4 linked regions of the Homo sapiens genome follow. The protein of the gene in region 1 interacts with the protein of each later gene in a biochemical or structural test. Each region holds a gene or a part of one and is shown in the gene's direction. Other genes may lie near its edges. The genes, in order: PTPA, TEP1, TERT and F3.

Region 1 (7,022 bases):
CTTTAGTCCCAGCTACTTGGGAGGCTGAGGCAGGAGAATCGCTTGAACCTGGGAGGCAAAGGTTGCAGTGAGCCGAGATTGCACCACTGCACTCCAGCCTGGGCAACAAGAGCGAAACTCTGTCTCAAAAAAAAAAAAAAAAAGTTTAGTGTATTTCTGGGTGGCAGGATTACTGGTCATTTTCATTTTCTTCTGTTTATATTTCTATTTTTTATGATGAGTAGGTATTGCATACTGAACAAAAGGCTTCCATAAAGTCTTTTTAAAAAGATGTCAGGGCTGGAGTTAGCTTCTCTATAGCAGCAGCCCATGGGTAGGCTGCCTACAGAAACCAGGTGCTAAAGCCACCCCGTCCCTGTCCCATCAGCCTAGTGTGCTTCCCTCTCTGGAAAGCCTATCATGCTCTCCTGACCCTCCTTCATATTCAGAACAGTGGGGAAGAAAGAGGGATGGGGGAGAGTTCCCAGTAGGGGCCATGCCAAGGGGTCATTGTCTGGCAGCAGTGGACTTCCCTCTGTGGCTAAGCGGGAGCCACTTGCTCTGTAGCTTGGACCCCTCTATTTTGCCTCCACAGGCCATTGAGAAACTAGTCGCTCTTCTCAACACGCTGGACAGGTGGATTGATGAGACTCCTCCAGTGGACCAGCCCTCTCGGTTTGGGAATAAGGCATACAGGACCTGGTATGCCAAACTTGATGAGGTGAGGCTGCCACAGGACAGGCCAGGGACTGGGCTGGCAGTGAGGGTGGTTCTGGCACCAGTTGGGGAAGGGCCTGCATTGTATAGCGCTTCTAGGCATATACAAATCTCAGTTTGTTAAAATGTCAATTTCACTTAGCAAAATTACAAATGAGTTTATACTCTGCTTGGTCATCTTCTGGGAAACACGACTGTGCACATACGGCCCTCTGCACTACAAGGCTGTTTATTAAGTCACTGTATTACAGCAAACTGGAAATGTTCCAAGTATCCATCTGTAGGGGATTATTTAAATAAATTAGTCCATCAATATCATGGAGTACTGTGCAGCTATAAAAAGGAATTTTTTTTATTTTTTATTTTATCTTTTTTTTTTTTTAGACGGAGTCTCGCTGTGTTGCCCAGGCTGGAGTGCAGTGGCGCAGTCTTGGCTCACTGCAAGCTCCACCTCCTGGGTTCACGCCATTCTCCTGCCTCAGCCTTCCGAGTAGCTGGGACTACAGGCACCCACCACCACGCCCGGCTAATTTTTTGTATTTTTCGTAGAGACGGGGTTTCACCGTGTTAGCCAGGATGGTCTTGATCTCCTGACCTTGTGATCCGCCCATCTCGGCCTCCCAAAGTGCTGGGATTACAGGTGTGAGCCACCACGCTCGGCCCCAAAAAGGAATTTTTTTCATAGCTGGGCACGGTGGCTCATACATGTAATCTCAGAATTCGGGGAGGTTAAGGCGGGAGGATCACTTGAGCCCAGGAGTTTGTGAGTAGGTTGGGCAACATAGCAAGACCCCGTTACTGCAAAAAATAAGAAATGGTGGTGCACACCTTTGGTCCCAGCTGCTTGGGTGGCTGAAGCAGGAGAATGACTTGAGCTCTGGAGTTTGAGGCTGCAGTGAGCTATGATGGAGCCATTGCACACCCACTTGGAATGCTAGCTGCATACTCCATGGTGTGGATGGACTAGTCTATTGAACTGATCCTCTACTGATGTTTTTATTTTTGAATCTTACGAAGGTGTTACCTATTCAAAGCAAACAAAAATAAAAATGCAGGATCTCAGACCCTGTCTAGAAAAGCAGAGTCTACAGGTCTGGGTAGGGACTGGGAACCTGGATTTTTACTAGCTTTCCAGGAGATGGCTCATGCCAGTTGTCTACAACTGAGCTTAAGGAAATTTGGGTCCTAATTGCTCTGGCCCAATATTTTCACATAGAGCAGAGGGGAGGACTCAGGACCCAGTGAAGTGCTGTTCCCAAGAGACGCCCGGGCCTGCCTCTGGACTCTTAAGATGGTACATGATCTTTTTTTTTTTTTTTTCCTGTTGTTCAGGCTGGAGTGCAGTGGCATGATCTCAGCTCCCTGCAGCCTTGACCTCCTGGGCTCAAGCAATCGTCCTGCCTCAGCCTCCCAAGTTGCTGGGACTACAGCATGCGCCACCATGCTTGGCTAATTTTTGTGTTTTTAGTAGAGACGGGGTTTCATCATGTTGGCCAGGCTGATCTCGAAATCCTGGCCTCAGGTGATCCGCCCACCTTGGCCTCCTAAAGTGTTGGAATTACAGGTGTGAGCCACTGCTCCCAGCCTTAAGTTATATCTTAAAGCTGACAAATCATAGCTTTACAGCTTGATGGATTTTTACATGTTTTTACTCATGGACTCACCACTCATGCCAAGTTTTTTACCCATGGATTCACCACTCATGTCAAGCAATAGAACATTCTAGCTGGAGTGCTCCCCTTCCCAATTGATATCGCCCAGATTATTCTGATTTCTATTCCATAAATTGATTTTTTTCCATGTTTCTGAACTTCGTATAACTCTCTGGCTTCTTTTGCTCAATGTCATGTCTGAGATTCATCCATGTTTTCATGTCTAGCTATAGGTCTTTTTCTTTGCTGTGTAGTATTCTATTGTATGAATATACCACAATTTATTCATTTCACTGTTGATGGACATTTCCATTGCATTTCCACCTTTTGGCTACTCTAAACAGTGCTGTTGTGAACATTCTTCTGCACGTCTTTTGATGGCACATGACACCAGCTCTTGCTGACCTGAGAGTGTGAAGGAAGGTGGCCTGTGTGGGAATCATAGCACTGACCTTCCAGAGTCTCTGTGGGGCTCCAGTGAGTTACCACATGGGAGGGTTGAGGCTTTTTTCCAGATTCCTCCTGTTTTGCCCCTAGACTCCTGTGCCCTGGAAAAATCAGTTGATGATAAGTCGCCTGGGTAGTCTTCTGCTGTGGAAGAATAAATGCTGTCCCTCCCCTTCCTTCTGTGGCCTGTCAGAACAGGAACCAAGCTGGCCTGGCAAGGCAGTGTGGGCCCCCAGTCAGGTGCTGCCCCTGGGCACCTGCCCACTGGGATGCTGCTTAATATGCTGCCACCACTTTGTGTCTCTTGTGTTACCAGGAAGCAGAAAACTTGGTGGCCACAGTGGTCCCTACCCATCTGGCAGCTGCTGTGCCTGAGGTGGCTGTTTACCTAAAGGAGTCAGTGGGGAACTCCACGCGCATTGACTACGGCACAGGTATCTGCTGCTTGTGGGGCTCTGTACTTATCTAGCTTCACTGCTTTCTGTTTTGGGCTTCAGGTGGTCTCTGGGCCCTCTGAGCAAGTGAGAGCAATCAAGAATTCGCCAAGCACCTGCAACCTATTGGGGCCAGCTGGGGTTAGGGTGGCTTCACCGGCAGGGAGGGCGTAGGCATGCAGGGAGGCCCGGATGCTGCAGCTCTGCTGTGGTCCACCAGGGGGAGCTGATGCCCCGTGCATGGTGCTTGCGCAGCGCTGCTTTCTGTTCTTGTGAAAATGGTCTCTGAGCTCCTCATCATCACCAAAATAATTATTAATTGAGCACTTACTGTGTGTCAAGGCAGCAGCTTACTGAAGCTTTGAGAAATGGGAACGCTTCTTGGTGGCCTTTGCAGTGTCGTGGCACACCCTCTCCCTTGAACCCCTTGTCTCTTAGCCACATTCTCTGTGCTATTGGGCTGTTTGGATCTGTGGTCCATGTAAGCCAAGGGACCTGGACTTTGAGGAGAGGGAGTGTGTGGACACTTTAAAAGGGAAGTGTAGACAGGTGCAGTGGTGCGTGCCTGTAATCCTAGCACTTTTGGAGGCTGAGGGGGAGGATTGCCTGAGCTCAGGAGTTTAAGACCAGCCTAGGCAACGTAGCAAGACTCCATCTCTTTTTTAAAAATTTATTTTAAGTTATTTTTATTTATATATTTATTTTTTTGAGACAGGGTCTTGCTTTGTCACCCGGGCTGCAGTGCAGTGATGTGATCTTGGCCCACTGCAGCCTTGACCTCCCGGGCCCAAGTGATCCTCTCACCTCTGCATCTCCCCACTCCCCAGTACCTGGGACTACAGGTGTGCACCACCAGCCTGGCAATTTATTTATTTATTTGAGACAGAGTCTCACTCTGTTGCCCAGGCTGGAGTGCAGTGGCATGATCTTGGCTCACTGCAACCTCCACCTCCTGGGTTCAAGCGATTATTCTGCTGGGACTATAGGCACACACCACCATACCTGGCTAATTTTAGTGTTTTTGGTAGAGACAGGGTTTCACCATGTTGGCCAGGCTGGTCTCGAACTCCTGACCTCTGGTGAGGTCACTTCTCCACCCACCTTGGCCTCCCAAAGTGCTGGGACTGGGATTACAGGCGTGAGCCACTGCGCCCAGCTGATTGTTTTGTATTTTTTGTAGAGATGGGGTTTTGCCATGTTGCCTGGGCTGGTCTTGAACTCCTGAGCTCAAGCTGTTCTCCCACCTCAGCCTCCCAAAGTGCTCAGATTACAGGTGCAAGCCACCATGCTGAGACCCCATCTCTCAAAAATATAAAAGGGAGGTGTTCTCTAGGTCAGGGCATGGCCTGTGGAGCCACCATGCTGAGACCCCATCTCTCAAAAATATAGAAGGGAGGCATTCTCTGTGTCAGGGCACGGCCTGTCGAGCCACCATGCTGAGACCCCATCTCTCAAAAATAGAGAAGGGAGGCGTTCTCTAGGTCAGGGCCTGGCCTGTGCAGCTAAGGAGGACCTCTGCTTTGGTGAGGGCCCGCCTTCCTTCCCTGAGGCAGGCAGATGGGGCACCGCTCAGCCCTCCCCTTGTCTGGGGAATGTGATCCACAGGAGGGAGCCCCAGCCACAGAGGCAGGCCCTGGAGAAGGGCCCTCTTGGACCGGGTGGGGCTTTGACTAAGACCAGCAGGAAAAGATCAAAGAGGGAAGACTGGCCAGGTCAGCAGGGGTTGGTGCCCCAGCTGCATGTGAACCCCTGAACAATGGGAGCCTGGGCCCTGTCTGGTCATAATTGGAAACTGTGGCAGGGGAAGGAAACTGAGCTCACAAGCTTCCAGGCCCTGGAGGGGTCTTCGTCCTCCAGAGACAGGACAGAAGTATTCTCTGACACATTCTCTTCTCACCTCCCTCCAGATAGGTTTTGTGTGACATTGTGAACAATGGGATTCAATCACAGTCCAGTGAGTTGTTCCTACAGTGCAGACCATTCCTGTTTGATATGACTGGGAAAGGAAGGAGGATACTTTTTCACCCTGTAATCTGATCATGTGTTCCCTGCTTAGAAGCCTGCAGTGGCTCCCTATTGCTCTTAGGGTAAAGTCTGAGCTCTTTCCTATGGCCAAAAGGCCCATGTGACCTGTAGCCTCCTGTCATTACACGTTCTCCCTTGCTCTCACTGCCTTCGACATACTGGCCTCCTTAGTGTTCCTCAAACAGATCAAACTTTTTCTTGCCTCAAGGCCTGTGCACATGCTATTCCTTCTGGCTAGAATGCATTTCTTGCTTCCCTCACTCCCTTTGCCTTGCCAGCTCACATCTTTCAGATTTCAGATTAGATGTTACTTCCTTAGGGGAAACCTTGAACCCTTACGTCAGGGTCCTTCTGTGATATCCTCCAGTTAGTACCCTGTCTTTCTCCTTCAGAGCTGGAATCATAGTAGTGACTGTATATTTATAATGTCTGTTGTCCCTGATAGATCATAAACTTTCTGAGGGCAAGGACTTACTTGTCACTGTCTCCTAGTGCGTAACATGGACAGTGACTGCTTACATAGTAGGTGCTCAGTAAATATGGTGGAATTGCTGAGTGAGTTAAACCTACGTAATGAAATGTAAATGTCCAGCCCGGGTCTTTTACGAGTGGAATTATAGTACTGGTAGTTCTTTTTTTTTTTTTTTTTTTTTTTTTTTTGAGACAGTCTCACTTTGTCACCCAGGCTGGAGTGCAGTGGCCTTATCATGGCTCACTGCAGCCTCAACCTCCTGGGCTCAGGAGATCCTCCATCTCAGCCTCCTGAGTAGTTGGGACCACAGGCACATGCCACCATGTCTGGCTAATTTTTGTATTTTTTGTAGAGACAGGGTTTTGCCATGTTGGCCAGGCTGATCTCAAACTCCTGAGCTCAAGCAAGCTGCCTGCCTCAGCCTCCTGAAGTGCTGGGATTACAGGCATGAGCCACCATGCACGGCCAGTACTGGTATTATAGTTCTTGAAAGGAAAGGGCCTAGCAAGTCTTTCTGAATGGGGAAGAGGTCTCATTGTCTCCATGTTGACCACCCTCCTCAGAGGGGCACTTATCAATGATTCGGATTCTGGGAGACTAAAACAATCCCAGTCCTTTACCTGGACTACTGTCAACGCTGGTTGTTTTTCTCCTCCAGGGCATGAGGCAGCCTTCGCTGCTTTCCTCTGCTGTCTCTGCAAGATTGGGGTGCTCCGGGTGGATGACCAAATAGCTATTGTCTTCAAGGTGTTCAATCGGTGAGAGAAAGGACAGGAGGGTTGGAGGAGGGGGCGTGAGGGGCCATCTGTTTCCTCCTCAAACTGGGAAATGGGGTGCTCTAGGGTTCTCCTGAGTAGCTCATGGTTCTCTTGTCCTGTCCTAATCAAGCTCTGGCTGTGGATGGAGTGTCCAAGCCTTTTTTCCAACAGGTTCAAATTAACCTCCAAGTAAAAGCAAGTGAAAGAATTGTCACATAGGCCGGGCGCGGTGGCTCACGCCTGTAATCCCAGGACTTTGGGAGGCCCAGGCAGGCGGATCACGAGGTCAGGTGTTCGACACCAGCCTGGCCAACATGATGAAACCCCGTCTCTACTAAAAATACAAGAATTAGCTGGGCGTGGTGGCACTCGCCTGTAATTCCAGCTACTCAGGAGGCTGAGGCAGAAGAATTGCTTGAACCCAGGAGGCGGAGGTTGCAGTGAGCTGAGATCGTGCCACTGTACTCCAGCCTGGGTGACAGAGTGAGACTCTGTCTTAAAAAAAAAAAGAATTGTCACATAATGTCTGCCAGTATTG
Region 2 (8,010 bases), on another chromosome or scaffold:
GCATGTTGTATACATTTTACCCATGTACTAGCACTATTCTTTGACAGGGGATTAGCAGATGTTTGTTGATCAAAGTAGAGGAGGACAATGAACATGCAAGAAAACTGACCACAAGTGAGCAATTTTAACAGGTGGTAGGACCCTTCCCAAAAGGGAAGACTGAGGGGGTGGCACTCCTTTGTCCCAGAGACAAATCTGGATATTACACCCATCAGTTGGCCATCGCAGCTCAATGCTACTAATCAACAGTAAGGTGGTGTTGGCCTATATGCAGGAGAAAGTGAATGGTCCTTTAAGAACTTGCAAATAAGGAATGTAAGATGGTTCTGTGAGAGTTAAGTGATTTCATTCCAGTGGGAAATGGCACATCTTCCCAGCCCTGGTATAGTTATTTGATTGGCAAAACTCCTGATTTATTCTAATGATAGTCATCTGAAGAAAGATTGGTTCAACTCAAGGGAATGGCTAACTTAGGAAAGCATGACTCAAAGAAGCAAATATTGGCAATATGATTAGCACTTCCTACGGGTATGAAAAGCTGAATTTGAACATTGTGAACATCTTGCCAGTTGAAAGGTTTTCTCTGTTGCAAGGCAGAGATAGTTTATCTGGCTCCTCAAAACACAGCTGAAATGTCCTTTAGGGATCATTCAGTGGCTGTGTGATTGGAACAGAACATCTGGGAATTGGGCCAAATTTTTAATTTATATATGCAATTCAAGTGTGACAGGTGCATTATTTACTACCTACCTCTGCCATGTGGTAGGTAGTAACTATCGCTTCTGTTTAGGTAATCATCCTAGATTAATAGTTTTTTAAATGTTTACCTCAGATCAGAGATAAGAGTCATGATTACCTGAGAAATTGCTGGAAGTGCAAATTCTCAGGTTCCATCTCAGACCTACCTACTGAATCAGAAATTTTCAAAAGAGATGAGCAACAATCTTCGTTTTAATCAGAGCTTTTTTTTTTTTTTGAGACAGGGTCTTGCTTTGTCACCCAGGTTGCCAGGGCACGAACACAGCTCACTGCCGCCTCGACTTCCTGGACTTAAGCAATCCTCCTGCCTCAGCTCCAGAAGTAGCAAGGACTACAGGTGTGGGCCACCATGCCTAGCTAATTTTTTTTTTTTTTTTTGGCATCTTTTATAGAGACAGGGTTTCACCATGTTGCCCAGGCTGGTCTCAAACTCCTGAGCTCAAGTGATCTGCCCGCTTAGCCTCCCAAAGTGCTGGGATTATAGGCATGAGCCACCACACCCTGCCTAATCAGGGGTTCTTAAATTTAAGCATGTACCAAAACCAACCGGACAGCTTGTTAAAATACAAATCACTGGGCCCTGACCACAGTGTTTGGAAATATAGATTCTCAGGTTCCACCCCACTTGTCTGGATCAGTGTTTCTCAAACTTTAATGTGAGTGGGAATAACCTGAAAATATTGTTAAAAGATTCTGATTCAGTAGATCTGGGGTAGAGCCTGAGAGTCTGCATTTCTAACAAGGTGATGTTGATGTTGTGGTCCACAATCCCATACTTTGATTAGTGAGACCCTCGAGCAGAGGTTCCTAAACTTTTCTGCACATTAGTATCACCTGATGTCTCCATCCACTGGTGCTGCTATACCAAAATACCTGAGACTGGGTAATTTTATAGATAATAGAAATTTATTTCTCATAATTCTGGAGGCTGGGGAAGTCCAAGATCAAGGCACTAGCATTTGGTGTCTGGTGAGAACATACCTTCTTGCTGCATCTTCTCATGGCAGAAGGTGGAAGGGCAAACAAAGGAGTGATTGCTGGTTTCTTCTAGCCCTTTTATAAGGCTGCAAACTCCATTCATAAGGGCTCTGCTCTCACGACTTAATCCCTCCTAAAGACCCCAACCCTTAATATTATCACATCGCAGATTGAGTTTCAACATGAATTTTGGGGGACATATTCAGACCATAGCACCTAGGAAACTTCAAAAACTACTGATGCCTGGGTCCTACTCTGGGTGATTGCGATTTAATTGGTCTGGGGTGTGGCCTGGACTTTGGAATTTTTAAAAGATCTCCAGGTAGTTCCAGTGTACAAGCCTTGCTGGCCTTGAATCTCTTTGCTGCTTCAGGAAACCAGAAAGTAAAACTAGATCCTCAAAGCCAATCAGGAAGCCATCACCAATTGCCTTCCCTCCTGTATTGCCAGTCTTCTCAGGTCTGATATTTATGGGAATATGATGGAAGGGCTTGCATATGCTGTTCTTTCACTGGTGGGGCAGGTGTTTCCCACAGAGAGTCACAGACTACGAGGTCTTGAGGTTGGGATTATTATCTAAGGCATATTCTATGGGGAAGAGGCCTTATAAAGCTGGCCTTCAGAAGAAAGGCCCTGTGTGGACTCCTTCAATCCCTCCCCTCACTTCCTTCTCCTCAATATGCTCCCACTGTAGTCACCTCACGTAACCCTTTCTTTCAGGTTTCCTAGCTCTTGTGTTCCCTCACCAAACTCCTCTCTTTCTCCTCTAAACAGACCACTAATGAAGGTTTTCGATGTGAGTGGTACTGCCCTCTAGGGGGTGTTTTTGGCTTTCACAATAATTAGGATGATTTTACACATTTAAATGGGTAGGGCCCAGGATAGCTCAACATTCAGGAACTGTTTAGGACACTACCACACAATGAGTGACATTTCCGCATCTTTAACTTTGAATAACTTGCCAGTCATTCATGTAGCTGAAAACTTGTTTTAATTAGGATCTAACTTAATTTTTTTATTTTTTTTTTGAGTCGGAGTTTTGCTCTTGTCACCCAGGCTGGAGTGCAGTGGTGTGGTCTCGGCTCCCTGCAACCTCCACCTCCTGGGTTCAAGCCATTCTCCTGCCTCAGTCTCCCAAGTAGCTGGGATTACAGGCGGCCACCACCATGCCCGGCTAATTTTTGTATTTTTGGTGGAGACAAGGTTTCACCATGTTGGCCAGGCTGGTCTCAAACTCCTGACCTCAGGTAATCTGCCCACCTTGGCCTCCCAAAGTGCTGGGATTACAGGCGTGAGCCACCGTGCCTGACCATAATTTAATTTTAAATATAAACACAAGGCATTTTATGCGTAGTTTTAATACACACTGAACTTTCCAGGGATGCAACTACCATGAAAATCATGGGATGATCATACCTTGTTTTGTTTGAAAATCTGCCAAAAGCTATTTAGTATTCTGGAAAATCATACCACATCAGTAATTCTGTTCATGGTATTTGAATCGCCATTATAATGCCTGTATCATTCTGCATTTGTAGCTGTTACATTCCAGGTGATTTTATATACAGATGCATATATCTGAGTACCACATTGTGTCTTCTTGAATGTTATACACAAACATTTACATATCTAAACATATAGTATTTAATTATAAGTCATATTCTTTCTAGTATTCCTTTTATCTCCCATCCAAGTACTAACCAAGCCCAACCCTGCTCAGCTTCCAAGATCAGAGGAGATCGGGCGCGTTCGGGGTGGTATGGCCGTAGACTCCTTTATATCTCTTTAAGAGATTTTACTAATTTTTTGGCCAGGCATGGTGGCTTATGCCTGTAATCCAAGCACTTTGGGAGGCCAAGGTAGGAGGACTATTTGAGCCCTGGAGGTAGAGAGCCTGGGCAACATAGCAAAACCCTGTCTCTACTTTTTGTCTTTAAATTTTGGTTTAAAATTGTGCGTGGGGGTAAGTTACATTCTTTACGAATTATGTTTCAGAAAAATAAAAAGAGCTTTAAAATATTTGTTATAAAAAGGAAATGTTTTAGTTCAGGTTGCTATAACAAATTACCGTAGACCGGGTGGCTTAAACAACAAATATTATTTCTCACAGTTCTAGAGAATGGAAGTCCAAGATCAGATTGCCAGCATGGTCTGCCTCTGAAGATGAGGGTCTTCCTTGGGATTGCAGATGGCTGTTTTCTTGTATCCTCATATCGTGGAAAAAGAGCTAGCTAGCTCTTCCGTCTCTCCTTATGAGGCCACCAATCCCATTTATGAGTATTCTAAACTCCATGACCTAATGACCTCCCAGAGATCCCACCCTAAATACCATCGCATTGGGATTAGGGTTTCAATATATAAATTTTGGGGAGACACAAACATAAAGACCATTGCAGGGAGTGTTGGGACTGGTGGCAATAGAGGTTTCTAAGGAAGGAAAGGGGTACTGGCTCAGTTAATAGAGGACAGAATGCCCTCAATTCTGAGCGGAAGCTCAGCTGTTACCTGAGACTCAAGGGTACCTCTCTAAGGAAAGCAATGATATTTTCCAGAAGACAGCTAATCTGCTTTATATAAAGGCAGAAAGCATATTTCTCCTGCTACTATGTTTGGTCCTCTCTTTATGAAGCTAGGATTATTAACCTAAGGGTCACTTGTCTCTTTCCTAAGCCTGGTTCCATCTTCCTGGAAAGGGTTCAGCATTAATCATTCAGGATGGCTCCAGATAGATTCTGTGTGATCCACGGATCTCTCTTCTGATCAACAGGAGGGGAGGCACTTGCTCTCAGTTCAGCGAACTTTGATTGACTGATGTCTACACTTGGTTACAGGCGGTTGCTTTCCGCTTTCCGTCTCCTTTTAAGGAGTTCCTCAAAGGAACTTTAGGATGAATTGAGTCTGACCGTCTTTGATATTAGGAAGGAGAGGTGTACAGCTAGGCAGCGAGCATGCTAAAATCTTTTCCAGGAAACGGTGTTTGAAGAGTTAATGGGAGAAAAAAAGACGAAAATTAGCCAGAGGAGACGAATTTGGTAGAGGGGGAAGCCCTAGGGACAGGAGAAAATAGGACCAGAAAGGGAAAAAAAATAGAAACAATAACAAACTAAACTCGGGCCCCAGAAAAGGCGGCAGGGGTCCTGGGCATTCGCGTCGCAGCCCTGGCATGTCGTCTTGCCCGGCCCTCGGCTCGCTGCCCTTCCAGCAGCTGCTGCGCCCCGCCCGGGCCCGAGAGTCTCCGCCCGCACCGTCTCTTCTCAGATCCGCATCCGGCTCCTCCCCCGGCTGCCACCCTTCCCACCGGCAGAATCCAGAGCGAAGTTTCTGCTTCCTGCTGCGGGAATCGGACGCCCCAGGTCAGGCACCCAGGGTTTCCAGCCCCAGTCTAAGGTAGGGTCCGAGCGCAGGCAGAACTTGCCCTGGCCCTGGGTCTAGGGCGCTGGGCTCTGAGGCTGAGAGCTGGGTGGGAAGTGCCTGGCGGGGCCGGTTAGGAACCACCCGAGACTCAGCTAGGGGTGCATCCACCCTGCTCCTCCCGGCGGCTCCGGGAAGGGGAGGGAGTGTATACTGCGTGAAAGGGGAGGTGAGAAAGGAGGAGGAGAAGGCTGAAGGAGAGGGAGGGACAGGAAGAGAGACCACGTAAGAATCATCCCCTCTTACTTCCTTGCCCTGTGTGCCCATCGAAAGGGGACAGTGGCTGTCACCAACAAATGGTAGTATGAGAACCGTTTGTGATAATAGAAACCCAGACTGTGCTTAAATGTGCTAGACTACCATACAGCCACTTGAAGAGTGAGGTGGAGGCCGGGCGCGGTGGTTCACGCCTGTAATCCCAGCACTTTGGGAGGCGGAGGTTGGGGATCACCTGAGGTCAGGAGTTTGAGACCAGCCTGACCAACATGGTGAAAACCCTCTCTACTGAAAATACAAAAAAATTAGCCGGGCATGGTGGTGGGCGCCTGTAATCCCAGTTACTCGGAAGGCTAAGGCAGGAGAATCGCTTGAACTCGGCAGGCAGAGATTGCAGTGAGCTGAACAACAGAGCCAGACTCCGCCTCAAAAAAAAAAAAAAAAAAAAAAGGAAAGAGTGAGGTGGGTATTAATGTGTTAACAGGGCAAGGTCTCTGAGATATACTAAGTGCAGAATAGCATCTAACTTATGATCCTGTTTGTGTAAAGCAAAAGCAAAAGCAGTGGTGATGGTGAAGGCATGTATTTGCATATGCATAGAAACTGTGAAACTGTTAGTATAAAACTGTGAGCAATGTTTACTTCCAGAGAAGGGAACTAGAGATGGAAGTGGGGACGGAACTTTAACTTTCCATTTGTGGTTCAGCCGAATCTCCTTTCAAAAACTCCAGGGTGCAAAACAATAAAATGAGCAAAATAGTGAGACTGTCCTTTTAAGGATAGGACAGTCTCACTATGTTGCTCAAATAAACTGTCCTTATTTTTCTGTTTATTTTTGGCTTGAGATCTCTTTTAAAAAAAATCTGAGTCAATTCTGAGTTTCCCCACTCCTTTCCTTGGGGGCTTATATAGGGCAACGACATGAGCAAAGTGTATTGGGCACAGAAGCCATCATTTTTTACGTGTTTGTCACACTGACGTCCAGTGAGATATTGTTGTCCTTTTTGGCCCTGGATTGTTAGTCATTCAGGTCTTCTTGGAAGTGTTCTGTACTTTTGTCCCTAAGCTTTTTCACACTAAGTTTAGGTGGTTGACTTAACAATATTATTCCCAAAATATTTACATATGAATGAGAGATTAGCCTTTGTCCAAATAAGTAAGAAAATACATTCCTTTTTTTTTTTAAATAGAGGTCTCACTATGTTGCCCAGGCTGGTCTTGAACTCCTGACCTCAAGTGATTCTCCCACCTCAGCCTCCCAAAATGCTAGGATTACAGGTGTGAGCCACCACACCCAGCCAGAAAATAGGTTCCTGATGGTATAATTCAAGCATTCTGTTAGGCAGAGGTTTCTAATTTTCAGTTTATGGAGATCCTGGGAGGTCCATAAATGGGCTTCATAGACACTCTGAAAATTGAGCACAAAACAGTATATACTTTTTTTTTTTCTGTGAAAAAGCTCCATAGCTTTTACCAGATTCTCAAAAGCCTCTGAATCCCGCTGACCAGCAATTGTGGGAACAAGGCTAAAAGGGTCTCTCTCCTCAGGAACTTAATGGTCTATTGGGAAGAAAGACAAACAGGTGATGTGCTCTATGATAGGGGACATATGGGTGTTGTGAAAACAAGGAGAAGGCCACCTAAATCAGACTGGGGCTTGGTGTCAGCACAGGCTTTTTGGAGGAGTTGATGAAACTGAAGTCTGTAGAGTGAGAGGAAAGTAGCATTTGGCCTTGTAAAGGAGGGGTGGTATTGGTAGAAGAAAGAGTGTTCCAGGGATCTGCCTGTGCACAGGCCCGTAGTCAAGAGATACCTTGGCAATTAATAAGCTAAATAAAATTTGTATGATTGAAGCTTAGAGTGCTGAGGGTTAGATCGGGGTGTTAGTGAGAGATGATGCTGGGAGGTGACCGGAAGTCGGGTTTTGTGTATGATGCTGAAGATGCAGAGGGGAGCAAGACAAAGGAGCCCTTACCTTAAGGAGTTGTATTTCAGTAAAGAGAAACAATTAGGCTGGGTGCGGTGGCTCACGCCTGTAATCCTAGCACTTTGGGAGGCTGAGGTGGGTGGATCATGAGGTCGGGAGATTGAGACCATCCTGATGAACATGGTGAAACCCTGTCTCTACTACAAATACAAAAATTAGCTGGGTGTGGTGGCAGGCACTTGTAATCCCAGCTACTTGGGGGGCTGAGGCAGGAGAATTACTTGAACCCGGGAAGTCGAGGTTGCAGTGAGCTGAGACTGTGCGACTGCACTCCAGCCAGCAATAGAGTGAGACTCCGTTTCAAAAAACAAAAAGCAAAAAAAAAAAAAAAAAAAAAAAAACCACAAAGGAGAAACAATTAGCAAGTGGGCTAATAAGCAAACATGCTTAAAAAAAAAGGAGTCCGCCAGGCACAGTGGCTCACACCTGTAATCCCAGCACTTTGGGAGGCCAAGGTGGGTGGATCACAAGGTCAGGAGTTCGAGACCAGCCTGGCCAGCATAGTGGAACCCTGTCTCTTACTAAAAATACAAAAAAAAAAAAAGAAAAAAAAATCAGCTGGGCATAGTGGCGGGCGCCTGTAATTCCAGCTACTCGGGAGGCTGAGGCAGGAGAATGGATTGAACCTGGGAGGCGGAGGTTGCAGTGAGCCAAGATCG
Region 3 (7,022 bases), on another chromosome or scaffold:
GGATGGTGCAGGTCAGGGGTGAGGTCTCCAGGCCCTCGGTGAGCTGGAGGTATGGAGTCCGGATGATGCAGGTCCGGGGTGAGGTCGCCAGGCCCTGCTGTGAGCTGGATGTGTGGTGTCTGGATGGTGCAGGTCTGGGGTGAGGTCACCAGGCCCTGCGGTGAGCTGGGTGTGCGGTGTCTGGATGGTGCAGGTCTGGAGTGAGGTCGCCAGACGGTGCCAGACCGTGCGGTGAGCTGGATATGCGGTGTCCGGATGGTGCAGGTCTGGGGTGAGGTTGCCAGGCCCTGCTGTGAGTTGGATGTGGGGTGTCCGGATGCTGCAGGTCCGGTGTGAGGTCACCAGGCCCTGCTGTGAGCTGGATGTGTGGTGTCTGGATGGTGCAGGTCTGGGGTGAGGTCGCCAGGCCCTGCTGTGAGCTGGATGTGTGGTGTCTGGATGGTGCAGGTCTGGAGTGAGGTCGCCAGGCCCTCGGTGAGCTGGATGTGCAGTGTCCAGATGGTGCAGGTCCGGGGTGAGGTCGCCAGACCCTGCGGTGAGCTGGATGTGCGGTGTCTGGATGGTGCAGGTCTGGAGTGAGGTCGCCAGGCCCTCGGTGAGCTGGATGTATGGAGTCCGGATGGTGCCGGTCCGGGGTGAGGTCGCCAGACCCTGCTGTGAGCTGGATATGCGGTGTCCGGATGGTGCAGGTCAGGGGTGAGGTCTCCAGGCCCTCGGTGAGCTGGAGGTATGGAGTCCGGATGATGCAGGTCCGGGGTGAGGTCGCCAGGCCCTGCTGTGAGCTGGATGTGCGGCGTCTGGATGGTGCAGGTCTGGGGTGTGGTCGCCAGGCCCTCGGTGAGCTGGAGGTATGGAGTCCGGATGATGCAGGTCCGGGGTGAGGTCGCCAGGCCCTGCTGTGAGCTGGATGTGCGGCGTCTGGATGGTGCAGGTCTGGGGTGTGGTCGCCAGGCCCTCGGTGAGCTGGAGGTATGGAGTCCGGATGATGCAGGTCCGGGGTGAGGTTGCCAGGCCCTGCTGTGAGCTGGATGTGCTGTATCCGGATGGTGCAGGTCCGGGGTGAGGTCGCCAGGCCCTGCTGTGAGCTGGATGTGCTGTATCCGGATGGTGCAGGTCTGGGGTGAGGTCACCAGGCCCTGCGGTGAGCTGGTTGTGCAGTGTCCGGTTGCTGCAGGTCCGGGGTGAGTTCGCCAGGCCCTCGGTGAGCTGGATGTGCGGTGTCCCCGTGTCCGGATGGTGCAGGTCCAGGGTGAGGTCGCTAGGCCCTTGGTGGGCTGGATGTGCCGTGTCCGGATGGTGCAGGTCTGGGGTGAGGTCGCCAGGCCTTTGGTGAGCTGGATGTGCGGTGTCTGCATGGTGCATGTCTGGGGTGAGGTCGCCAGGCCCTTGGTGGGCTGGATGTGTGGTGTCCGGATGGTGCAGGTCCGGCGTGAGGTCGCCAGGCCCTGCTGTGAGCTGGATGTGCGGTGTCTGGATGGTGCAGGTCCGGGGTGAGGTAGCCAAGGCCTTCGGTGAGCTGGATGTGGGGTGTCCGGATGGTGCAGGTCCGGGGTGAGGTCGCCAGGCCCTGCGGTTAGCTGGATATGCGGTGTCCGGATGGTGCAGGTCCGGGGTGAGGTCACCAGGCCCTGCGGTTAGCTGGATGTGCGGTGTCTGGATGGTGCAGGTCCGGGGTGAGGTCGCCAGGCCCTGCTGTGAGCTGGATGTGCTGTATCCAGATGGTGCAGGTCCGGGGTGAGGTCGCCAGGCCCTGCAGTGAGCTGGATGTGCTGTATCCGGATGGTGCAGGTCTGGCGTGAGGTCGCCAGGCCCTGCGGTTAGCTGGATATGCGGTGTCGGATGGTGCAGGTCCGGGGTGAGGTCACCAGGCCCTGCGGTTAGCTGGATGTGTGGTGTCCGGATGGTGCAGGTCTGGGGTGAGGTCGCCAGGCCCTGCTGTGAGCTGGATGTGCTGTATCCGGATGGTGCAGGTCCGGGGTGAGGTCGCCAGGCCCTGCGGTGAGCTGGATGTGCTGTATCCGGATGGTGCAGGTCTGGCGTGAGGTCGCCAGGCCCTGCGGTGAGCTGGATGTGCAGTGTACGGATGGTGCAGGTCCGGAGTGAGGTCGCCAGGCCCTGCGGTGGGCTGTATGTGTGTTGTCTGGATGGTGCAGGTCCGGGGTGAGTTCGCCAGGCCCTGCGGTGAGCTGGATGTGTGGTGTCTGGATGCTGCAGGTCCGGGGTGAGTTCGCCAGGCCCTCGGTGAGCTGGATATGCGGTGTCCCCGTGTCCGAATGGTGCAGGTCCAGGGTGAGGTCGCCAGGCCCTTGGTGGGCTGGATGTGCCGTGTCCGGATGGTGCAGGTCTGGGGTGAGGTCGCCAGGCCCTTGGTGAGCTGGATGTGCGGTGTCCGGATGGTGCAGGTCCGGGGTGAGGTCACCAGGCCCTCGGTGATCTGGATGTGGCATGTCCTTCTCGTTTAAGGGGTTGGCTGTGTTCCGGCCGCAGAGCACCGTCTGCGTGAGGAGATCCTGGCCAAGTTCCTGCACTGGCTGATGAGTGTGTACGTCGTCGAGCTGCTCAGGTCTTTCTTTTATGTCACGGAGACCACGTTTCAAAAGAACAGGCTCTTTTTCTACCGGAAGAGTGTCTGGAGCAAGTTGCAAAGCATTGGAATCAGGTACTGTATCCCCACGCCAGGCCTCTGCTTCTCGAAGTCCTGGAACACCAGCCCGGCCTCAGCATGCGCCTGTCTCCACTTGCCTGTGCTTCCCTGGCTGTGCAGCTCTGGGCTGGGAGCCAGGGGCCCCGTCACAGGCCTGGTCCAAGTGGATTCTGTGCAAGGCTCTGACTGCCTGGAGCTCACGTTCTCTTACTTGTAAAATCAGGAGTTTGTGCCAAGTGGTCTCTAGGGTTTGTAAAGCAGAAGGGATTTAAATTAGATGGAAACACTACCACTAGCCTCCTTGCCTTTCCCTGGGATGTGGGTCTGATTCTCTCTCTCTTTTTTTTTTCTTTTTTGAGATGGAGTCTCACTCTGTTGCCCAGGCTGGAGTGCAGTGGCATAATCTTGGCTCACTGCAACCTCCACCTCCTGGGTTTAAGCGATTCACCAGCCTCAGCCTCCTAAGTAGCTGGGATTACAGGCACCTGCCACCACGCCTGGCTAATTTTTGTACTTTTAGGAGAGACGGGGTTTCACCATGTTGGCCAGGCTGGTCTCGAACTCATGACCTCAGGTGATCCACCCACCTTGGCCTCCCAAAGTGCTGGGTTTACAGGCTAAGCCACCGTGCCCAGCCCCCGATTCTCTTTTAATTCATGCTGTTCTGTATGAATCTTCAATCTATTGGATTTAGGTCATGAGAGGATAAAATCCCACCCACTTGGCGACTCACTGCAGGGAGCACCTGTGCAGGGAGCACCTGGGGATAGGAGAGTTCCACCATGAGCTAACTTCTAGGTGGCTGCATTTGAATGGCTGTGAGATTTTGTCTGCAATGTTCGGCTGATGAGAGTGTGAGATTGTGACAGATTCAAGCTGGATTTGCATCAGTGAGGGACGGGAGCGCTGGTCTGGGAGATGCCAGCCTGGCTGAGCCCAGGCCATGGTATTAGCTTCTCCGTGTCCCGCCCAGGCTGACTGTGGAGGGCTTTAGTCAGAAGATCAGGGCTTCCCCAGCTCCCCTGCACACTCGAGTCCCTGGGGGGCCTTGTGACACCCCATGCCCCAAATCAGGATGTCTGCAGAGGGAGCTGGCAGCAGACCTCGTCAGAGGTAACACAGCCTCTGGGCTGGGGACCCCGACGTGGTGCTGGGGCCATTTCCTTGCATCTGGGGGAGGGTCAGGGCTTTCCCTGTGGGAACAAGTTAATACACAATGCACCTTACTTAGACTTTACACGTATTTAATGGTGTGCGACCCAACATGGTCATTTGACCAGTATTTTGGAAAGAATTTAATTGGGGTGACCGGAAGGAGCAGACAGACGTGGTGGTCCCCAAGATGCTCCTTGTCACTACTGGGACTGTTGTTCTGCCTGGGGGGCCTTGGAGGCCCCTCCTCCCTGGACAGGGTACCGTGCCTTTTCTACTCTGCTGGGCCTGCGGCCTGCGGTCAGGGCACCAGCTCCGGAGCACCCGCGGCCCCAGTGTCCACGGAGTGCCAGGCTGTCAGCCACAGATGCCCAGGTCCAGGTGTGGCCGCTCCAGCCCCCGTGCCCCCATGGGTGGTTTTGGGGGAAAAGGCCAAAGGGCAGAGGTGTCAGGAGACTGGTGGGCTCATGAGAGCTGATTCTGCTCCTTGGCTGAGCTGCCCTGAGCAGCCTCTCCCGCCCTCTCCATCTGAAGGGATGTGGCTCTTTCTACCTGGGGGTCCTGCCTGGGGCCAGCCTTGGGCTACCCCAGTGGCTGTACCAGAGGGACAGGCATCCTGTGTGGAGGGGCATGGGTTCACGTGGCCCCAGATGCAGCCTGGGACCAGGCTCCCTGGTGCTGATGGTGGGACAGTCACCCTGGGGGTTGACCGCCGGACTGGGCGTCCCCAGGGTTGACTATAGGACCAGGTGTCCAGGTGCCCTGCAAGTAGAGGGGCTCTCAGAGGCGTCTGGCTGGCATGGGTGGACGTGGCCCCGGGCATGGCCTTCAGCGTGTGCTGCCGTGGGTGCCCTGAGCCCTCACTGAGTCGGTGGGGGCTTGTGGCTTCCCGTGAGCTTCCCCCTAGTCTGTTGTCTGGCTGAGCAAGCCTCCTGAGGGGCTCTCTATTGCAGACAGCACTTGAAGAGGGTGCAGCTGCGGGAGCTGTCGGAAGCAGAGGTCAGGCAGCATCGGGAAGCCAGGCCCGCCCTGCTGACGTCCAGACTCCGCTTCATCCCCAAGCCTGACGGGCTGCGGCCGATTGTGAACATGGACTACGTCGTGGGAGCCAGAACGTTCCGCAGAGAAAAGAGGGTGGCTGTGCTTTGGTTTAACTTCCTTTTTAAACAGAAGTGCGTTTGAGCCCCACATTTGGTATCAGCTTAGATGAAGGGCCCGGAGGAGGGGCCACGGGACACAGCCAGGGCCATGGCACGGCGCCAACCCATTTGTGCGCACAGTGAGGTGGCCGAGGTGCCGGTGCCTCCAGAAAAGCAGCGTGGGGGTGTAGGGGGAGCTCCTGGGGCAGGGACAGGCTCTGAGGACCACAAGAAGCAGCCGGGCCAGGGCCTGGATGCAGCACGGCCCGAGGTCCTGGATCCGTGTCCTGCTGTGGTGCGCAGCCTCCGTGCGCTTCCGCTTACGGGGCCCGGGGACCAGGCCACGACTGCCAGGAGCCCACCGGGCTCTGAGGATCCTGGACCTTGCCCCACGGCTCCTGCACCCCACCCCTGTGGCTGCGGTGGCTGCGGTGACCCCGTCATCTGAGGAGAGTGTGGGGTGAGGTGGACAGAGGTGTGGCATGAGGATCCCGTGTGCAACACACATGCGGCCAGGAACCCGTTTCAAACAGGGTCTGAGGAAGCTGGGAGGGGTTCTAGGTCCCGGGTCTGGGTGGCTGGGGACACTGGGGAGGGGCTGCTTCTCCCCTGGGTCCCTATGGTGGGGTGGGCACTTGGCCGGATCCACTTTCCTGACTGTCTCCCATGCTGTCCCCGCCAGGCCGAGCGTCTCACCTCGAGGGTGAAGGCACTGTTCAGCGTGCTCAACTACGAGCGGGCGCGGCGCCCCGGCCTCCTGGGCGCCTCTGTGCTGGGCCTGGACGATATCCACAGGGCCTGGCGCACCTTCGTGCTGCGTGTGCGGGCCCAGGACCCGCCGCCTGAGCTGTACTTTGTCAAGGTGGGTGCCGGGGACCCCCGTGAGCAGCCCTGCTGGACCTTGGGAGTGGCTGCCTGATTGGCACCTCATGTTGGGTGGAGGAGGTACTCCTGGGTGGGCCGCAGGGAGTGCAGGTGACCCTGTCACTGTTGAGGACACACCTGGCACCTAGGGTGGAGGCCTTCAGCCTTTCCTGCAGCACATGGGGCCGACTGTGCACCCTGACTGCCCGGGCTCCTATTCCCAAGGAGGGTCCCACTGGATTCCAGTTTCCGTCAGAGAAGGAACCGCAACGGCTCAGCCACCAGGCCCCGGTGCCTTGCACCCCAGTCCTGAGCCAGGGGTCTCCTGTCCTGAGGCTCAGAGAGGGGACACAGCCCGCCCTGCCCTTGGGGTCTGGAGTGGTGGGGGTCAGAGAGAGAGTGGGGGACACCGCCAGGCCAGGCCCTGAGGGCAGAGGTGATGTCTGAGTTTCTGCGTGGCCACTGTCAGTCTCCTCGCCTCCACTCACACAGGTGGATGTGACGGGCGCGTACGACACCATCCCCCAGGACAGGCTCACGGAGGTCATCGCCAGCATCATCAAACCCCAGAACACGTACTGCGTGCGTCGGTATGCCGTGGTCCAGAAGGCCGCCCATGGGCACGTCCGCAAGGCCTTCAAGAGCCACGTAAGGTTCACGTGTGATAGTCGTGTCCAGGATGTGTGTCTCTGGGATATGAATGTGTCTAGAATGCAGTCGTGTCTGTGATGCGTTTCTGTGGTGGAGGTACTTCCATGATTTACACATCTGTGATATGCGTGTGTGGCACGTGTGTGTCGTGGTGCATGTATCTGTGGCGTGCATATTTGTGGTGTGTGTGTGTGTGGCACGTGTGTGTCCATGGTGTGTGTGCCTGTGGTGTGCATGTGTGTGTGTCTGTGACACGTGCATGTTCATGCTGTGTGCTGCATGTCTGTGATGTGCCTATTTGTGGTGTGTGTGTGTGCATGTGTCCGTGACATATGCGTGTCTATGGCATGGGTGTGTGTGGCCCCTTGGCCTTACTCCTTCCTCCTCCAGGCATGGTCCGCACCATTGTCCTCACGCTCTCGGGTGCTGGTTTGGGGAGCTCCACATTCAGGGTCCTCACTTCTAGCATGGGTGCCCCTGTCCTGTCACAGGGCTGGGCCTTGGAGACTGTAAGCCAGGTTTGAGAGGAGAGTAGGGATGCTGGTGGTACCTTCCTGGACCCCTGGCACCCC
Region 4 (6,877 bases), on another chromosome or scaffold:
GCTTTACGTTTATAAAAATAGATGTCTGCTGAAAATACCAATCCCAGTCTAAGACTTGAATTGGAAGGTTTTTCTCTAAAGTTACATTTTTCAGAATACTGGTGCTATGTGATAACTCATTTAGCAAAGCTTCTTGTAAGCTGTTCTAGACAGTTGATAGAAGTATTTTGAATGACCAGGATAATAGATTTTATCATACTGACTTTCAACTGTTTAATTTTGGTCTAAATGAACTGTTGGACTAGTATATTGCTATTTTCACAAAATGCATAATCATGACTGCCAATTTTTCCATGACTAACTATACCCAGCCAGATGTTTCTTAGGTTCTGCTGAGTCACTTTTTTCCTTTTCCTCCAGAACTCTGTGTTCCTACTAACTCCTAATTCCCTCTGGCCTTTTCTCATACTTTGCCTTTTACCTGAATTTTGGGTAATGGTTTCATTGCTCTTTTTACCATTTCATATGCATAAAATAAGTTTCTCTGAATTATTCTCAATTTTACTTGCTATCATGTATCTTAACCTATCTCTTTCCTGGGAAATAAACATTTTGAGGAATTTGTTTTAAAAAGTTATTCAGCCTCTGTATGCAAGGAAAACTATCAACAACCTCATCGCATGATGAAGTATATTCTGAATCATCGTAGAATCCAGTCTTTTAAAAAAATGCTAGCTAGTTTCCAAACTTCTGTATCTGGTTTCTGCTTCTCAGCTATCTCTCCTCCTGGTGAGATTTTCTGGTGGTGCAGAGATAGCTAATCACTGGTTAGACTGCTAGAACTTGCGGTCGAGTGGTGCCTTTCCAGTCATGATGGATTTGTATTTTCTTACCAATCTCAGCATCATGAAACACTCACTGCCTGGCCCCTAGAAAGAGTTTTCAGTGACAGATTTCATCTCTTGAACACCAGTGAAATATTTGGTTGCACTCATAGTTTTATAAAGTATTCATTGACTCAAAAGGTATTAAGTGCCTATTATGTGCTGATAATTGTGGAAAGGGTTGAGAGAGGAAAAAAACAGACAAAAAACCCAATCCAACAGGAAAGATTAACAGGTAAACACACAAGTGAGATTAAGTGAAGTTCTCAATGAAAATGAGTCGGTAAAATTGGCAGCAAGTACTATAAAAGTACAGTGGAAGGGCTGAAACATCTCCGCAGTTATTTTCAGACTTCTCATCAACCACATTTCATCACTGGTTATGCAAAGGGAATTCAAACTCTTCTACGTGTCTCCTTGTCTGTCTATTTCAAGGACTAACCATCAGGATATTTCTGCCTAAGAACAATGAGTTCCCCAAACTGCAAAGTATTTTCTATACTTTGTGTGCAGTTTTTGTGCAGTTTTGCACTTTTCTGCACTTTGTGTACATGCAGAACATTTTTGAGTGCTTATGGATGGATTAATTAATCATTCATTTGATGGATTTACCACCCAGTCTTACTTTCCTTCATTGGGAGTAGGAGAAAGCCTGGTGATGGAAGGAAAGCCCCCGGGGTCAGAAGACCAGATCTGCACTGTGTGGTTAGGCAAGCCAGTTTACTCAGATCAGCTGGCCACAGGGTTCTCATCCATAAAAGAATGTCTGTGAGGTTCTCCCATCCTCTGACATCCTAAAATCCAATGAGAAAGGGACTGGTCAAGCCAGAGAGATTATTGTTATAGTTTAGTAACTTTTTGAACTTCTCAGAGCCTCCAAGATAGATCATGGAGGAGGGAACTGTTAACTGCTAAGCTTGACTTTACTGACAGGAGTAAAAAAAATTGTGTTAAGGTTAGGGAATAATTTTAACAGTCAATTTGTTCTTGTGAACAAATTTCAACAGTGAAATTTTAGATATGTACTTTTTAATGGTGCCAAGCAGCAGTTATTATAGATCAACTGCTGTTTGGCACCATTAAAAAGTACACTTCGCACCGTCAAAAAGTAGATCTGGCCACAATTAGATCAGTCAGGGAAAAACACTTCGCAATGAAATATTATTTACCACGTTTTCTTCCTCCCTCTTCTTGAAAATAGTAATGATTTTAGCATTTTTAAATCTTGAAGAATGTCATTCCGTACTGACTAAAAAGCCTGTGCAAACACCCAACATCTTCTCTTTCCTGTCTATTTTAATGGATATACAAAATAAATATTCATCTAATTTATCAATATTTAAGGCACATTGTGTATCACAATCCAATGGTAAACATTTTTCTTATCAAATGGCTGATCTTGACATTGTTTAAAGCCCTATATGATTTCAGAAAAGTCAGTGACTCCAAGTGGAATTGCAACAATTTCTTGGGTCTTGTAACAAACCTGAAGTGTAACTATTTCTCTTCAGCTACCTTCAATCCCAGAGAGCAAAGAATCACATCCCAGGTGGAGCTGAAGATCTCTTAGGGAAAATGACTCAGGCTAGAGCCTGCATAAAAAGAGGATTGCATGGCTTAGTTTTGCAAACATAAATTTTGTGGGTTTCAGAGCTGGCAGAGAGCTCAAAGAGGAAATCATCAAGGGCAACTTTCTGCTTCGAGGAAGGAAAGTCTACAAGGGCTAAACCTGGATGTGCTATTTCAGTTCAGGCAAAGGAGGAAAATTAAAATTTTGCACAGTTTTATTCTGTTAAAACAAGTGGTTCAGTAAGCTAAACGAGATATGTATATAGTATGCATTAAAATGCAAGACTGACTTCCCTGGGAAAACGTGGGAAAGAAGGAGAGAGGAAACAAACAATTCTTACACTAAGAATTCTCCAGTCGTGTCTTGCAGGCAATATAGAGTAATAATAATAAAAATGACAGGAGATACTTTGACAGGATGGCTTAAAATGCCACTCAATAGATGAAGAGTTGTTCTCATGCTTGGCAAGTTTACAGCAAAGCCCAGAAGGAGAAGCCAGAAAATAATTTAGAAAAACCAAAGCTTAAAACTAGTGGCACACAACTCTGGTTACATTTTTCATTTTCATTTTTGGTTCCTCTGCATTTCGGTGGAACTCAGTCCCACAGATGTCTTCTTCAATGTGGGAACCATCCTTTCTGGAACCACAGAGCTGCAGATGTCACGCTGGAATTCTCCCAGAGGCAAACTGCCAGATGTGAGGCTGCTCTTCCTCAGTCACTATCTCTGGTCGTACCGGGCGATGCCTGAGCCAACTGACCCTCAGACCTGTGAGCCGAGCCGGTCACACCGTGGCTGACACCGGCATTCCCACCGCCTTTCTCCTGTGCGACCCGCTAAGGGCCCCGCGAGGTGGGCAGGCCAGGTATTCTTGACCTTCGTGGGGTAGAAGAAGCCACCGTGGCTGGGAGAGGGCCCTGCTCACAGCCACACGTTTACTTCGCTGCAGGTCCCGAGCTTCTGCCCCAGGTGGGCAAAGCATCCGGGAAATGCCCTCCGCTGCCCGAGGGGAGCCCAGAGCCCGTGCTTTCTATTAAATGTTGTAAATGCCGCCTCTCCCACTTTATCACCAAATGGAAGGGAAGAATTCTTCCAAGGCGCCCTCCCTTTCCTGCCATAGACCTGCAACCCACCTAAGCTGCACGTCGGAGTCGCGGGCCTGGGTGAATCCGGGGGCCTTGGGGGACCCGGGCAACTAGACCCGCCTGCGTCCTCCAGGGCAGCTCCGCGCTCGGTGGCGCGGTTGAATCACTGGGGTGAGTCATCCCTTGCAGGGTCCCGGAGTTTCCTACCGGGAGGAGGCGGGGCAGGGGTGTGGACTCGCCGGGGGCCGCCCACCGCGACGGCAAGTGACCCGGGCCGGGGGCGGGGAGTCGGGAGGAGCGGCGGGGGCGGGCGCCGGGGGCGGGCAGAGGCGCGGGAGAGCGCGCCGCCGGCCCTTTATAGCGCGCGGGGCACCGGCTCCCCAAGACTGCGAGCTCCCCGCACCCCCTCGCACTCCCTCTGGCCGGCCCAGGGCGCCTTCAGCCCAACCTCCCCAGCCCCACGGGCGCCACGGAACCCGCTCGATCTCGCCGCCAACTGGTAGACATGGAGACCCCTGCCTGGCCCCGGGTCCCGCGCCCCGAGACCGCCGTCGCTCGGACGCTCCTGCTCGGCTGGGTCTTCGCCCAGGTGGCCGGCGCTTCAGGTGAGTGGCACCAGCCCCTGGAAGCCCGGGGCGCGCCACACGCAGGAGGGAGGCGACAGTCCTGGCTGGCAGCGGGCTCGCCCTGGTTCCCCGGGGCGCCCATGTTGTCCCCCGCGCCTACGGGACTCGGCTGCGCTCACCCAGCCCGGCTTGAATGAACCGAGTCCGTCGGGCGCCGGCGGGAGTTGCAGGGAGGGAGTTGGCGCCCCAGACCCCGCTGCCCCTTCCGCTGGAGAGTTTTGCTCGGGGTGTCCGAGTAATTGGACTGTTGTTGCATAAGCGGACTTTTAGCTCCCGCTTTAACTCTGGGGAAAGGGCTTCCCAGTGAGTTGCGACCTTCAATATGATAGGACTTGTGCCTGCGTCTGCACGTGTTGGCGTGCAGAGGTTTGGATATTATCTTTCATTATATGTGCATCTTCCCTTAATAAAGAGCGTCCCTGGTCTTTTCCTGGCCATCTTTGTTCTAGGTTTGGGTAGAGGCAATCCAAAAGGGCTGGATTGCTGCTTAGATTGGAGCAGGTACAACGTTGTGCATGCCCCGTATTTCTACGAGGTGTTCGGGACGGCGTAGAGACTGGGACCTGCTGCGTACTGGCAAAGCAGACCTTCATAAGAAATAATCCTGATCCAATACAGCCGACGGTGTGACAGGCCACACGTCCCCGTGGGTCTCTGTGGAAGTTTCAGTGTAGCGACATTTCAGATAAAAGTGGAAAAAGTGAAGTTTGGCTTTTTTCATTTGTATGCAGTCCTAACTCTTGTCACACGTGTGGGATTTATCTTTTTCCATAACTTACTGAAAACCCTTCCTGGCGGGCTGAACCTGACTCTTCCTGAGCTGAGTCCTGGACTGGCACACTGATGGCTCTGGGCTCTTCCCGGTCAAGTTATAACAAGGCTTTGCCCATGAATAATTTCAAACGAAAATGTCAAGATCCTTGCCGGTGTCCTGGGATTACAAGGTGAATCTTGTCATGAAGAAATTCTAGGTCTAGAAAAAATTTGAAGATTCTTTTTCTCTTGATAATTCACTAATGAAGCTTTTGTGGTTGAAAAATAAAAAGTGAGGTTTATGGTGATGTCAGGTGGGAAGGTGTTTTATACATCAATACATTCGAGTGCTCTGAAGTGCATGTAATAATAGCTGTTTCTCTGTTGTTTAAAGGCACTACAAATACTGTGGCAGCATATAATTTAACTTGGAAATCAACTAATTTCAAGACAATTTTGGAGTGGGAACCCAAACCCGTCAATCAAGTCTACACTGTTCAAATAAGGTAAGCTGGGTACAGAAAAAGAAAATTAAGGTCTTTGATGTTTCTACTGTCCTATGCTGAACAAGAATGTCTTTAAAGCTGATTACTGGATGAAATTATTTAACAGATGACGAAGAAGAAGGGATTCTTGGCAATTCGCTGGCCGGTGTCATACTCTATTAGGCCTGCAACATTTCCAGACCTTAAACTGATAGAACATTTTAATTGTTTTAATTGTTTTTGGAAATGATGGGAGAGTTCCTAAGTGGAGTATAAACTGTGGAGAGATGAACCATCTTGAGTAGGCACTGAAGTGTGCTTTGGGTCATGATAGATTAATTAATCTCATCTAAACATTGATGTCTTTTTCTGTTGCTGTCTAGACTGTGAACAATGTCTAACACCTTAGGGAAGAGGTGGGGAGGAATCCCAATGTATACATTGCCCTTAAGCAGTGTTTGATTCATTCATCTTTGGACTCCATGAATCGAAATCTGGTAGAATACATGATCTTAGTGGAGGAGGCCAAATGCGTGACTCACTGAGCCTGGCAGAGCAGAAATACTCTGCTGTCTGCACCCTCTGGGTCTGGTGTGGCTCTGCTTCTTGGTGCCTCAACTCTGACTGGCAGCTGTCCCCAGGAGGCGATAATTCAGCATGTTCAATCTAAAGGTTATGACTTCCTTGATGGTTTTCACCATATTCTTGGCAAGTTTTTGGTTTTTGAAATGTTCTAGGAGGCTTGGTAGAGATCTTATGAAATAGAGAATAGCTGCTGTGGAAATTATTTTAATGCTAATTACATAAAAGTACAAAAGTAGCACTAGCTAAAACAAAAGGTATTTTGCTGTTCTGTTTTGTTTTAGCTTGTGCCAGGCCTTTTACAGCATTAGGAATGCAACTTCTAGATAACGATGCATCTTTTAAGTGAATGTTCTTGTTTTTCAAAATGAACTTCATGACAGTAGTTGCCAAACCAGCAAGGAGAACTTGCATGCATACGTGCATGCATGTGTGGATATGTATGGGGGTGGGGGGAGAGAAAGATGAAGGAATTTCATAACATGAAATAATGATTACAGTTCTGGTCAAACTTGTCAATTCAGATTTCACCAATTGAGAATTAGTAAGTAATTTCTCTGATACAGGCCTGAAGTTTACCTTAGTAAACACTTTACTTCCATATGGTAAAAATTAGATTTTGGGAGGAATGCTTACCTCCTAAATATATTCAATCTAATATTTGAGGGACACATGGGAATATATTTATGATTCATCTGCTTTTTAAACATAAGCCTTTGTTAACTGTAAGTTCTTGAACTTTATAAGGCTGCTGTTATTTAAATGAGCACAGCTCCTGATCTGCAAACAGCAGAGCGCAGGGCTACAGCTTGGGGGATGCCAGCCGACTCAGGGTGGTCCTATGGACTGAACAATCTCTTGCTGCTGTACTGGAGGGCCTGGGAGCTTTTCCATCAGCCTCGGCCTGAGGTGTGCACTCTTCTCCTGCCCACCCCAGGAATAAATGAGATTC

The links.
Region 2: of the proteins of PTPA (region 1) and TEP1, one has a biochemical effect on the other in vitro, tested with the Homo sapiens proteins (one study listed by BioGRID).
Region 3: of the proteins of PTPA (region 1) and TERT, one has a biochemical effect on the other in vitro, tested with the Homo sapiens proteins (one study listed by BioGRID).
Region 4: of the proteins of PTPA (region 1) and F3, one has a biochemical effect on the other in vitro, tested with the Homo sapiens proteins (one study listed by BioGRID).

What each region holds. Positions count from the first base shown.
Region 1 is NC_000009.12:129,128,411-129,135,432, forward strand, and holds part of PTPA (serine/threonine-protein phosphatase 2A activator), read left to right. Parts: intron 1-574; coding exon 575-700; intron 701-3,111; coding exon 3,112-3,229; intron 3,230-6,384; coding exon 6,385-6,484; intron 6,485-7,022. UniProt on the Homo sapiens protein: PPIases accelerate the folding of proteins. It catalyzes the cis-trans isomerization of proline imidic peptide bonds in oligopeptides. Acts as a regulatory subunit for serine/threonine-protein phosphatase 2A (PP2A).
Region 2 is NC_000014.9:20,410,485-20,418,494, reverse strand, and holds the start of TEP1 (telomerase protein component 1), read left to right. Parts: upstream 1-4,993; 5' UTR 4,994-5,090; exon of another isoform or gene 5,091-5,124; intron 5,125-8,010. UniProt on the Homo sapiens protein: Component of the telomerase ribonucleoprotein complex that is essential for the replication of chromosome termini. Also a component of the ribonucleoprotein vaults particle, a multi-subunit structure involved in nucleo-cytoplasmic transport.
Region 3 is NC_000005.10:1,278,066-1,285,087, reverse strand, and holds part of TERT (telomerase reverse transcriptase), read left to right. Parts: intron 1-2,463; coding exon 2,464-2,659; intron 2,660-4,749; coding exon 4,750-4,930; intron 4,931-5,617; coding exon 5,618-5,797; intron 5,798-6,291; coding exon 6,292-6,447; intron 6,448-7,022. UniProt on the Homo sapiens protein: Telomerase is a ribonucleoprotein enzyme essential for the replication of chromosome termini in most eukaryotes. Active in progenitor and cancer cells. Inactive, or very low activity, in normal somatic cells.
Region 4 is NC_000001.11:94,538,744-94,545,620, reverse strand, and holds the start of F3 (tissue factor isoform 1 precursor), read left to right. Parts: upstream 1-3,861; 5' UTR 3,862-3,984; coding exon 3,985-4,084; intron 4,085-5,252; coding exon 5,253-5,364; intron 5,365-6,877. UniProt on the Homo sapiens protein: Initiates blood coagulation by forming a complex with circulating factor VII or VIIa. The [TF:VIIa] complex activates factors IX or X by specific limited proteolysis.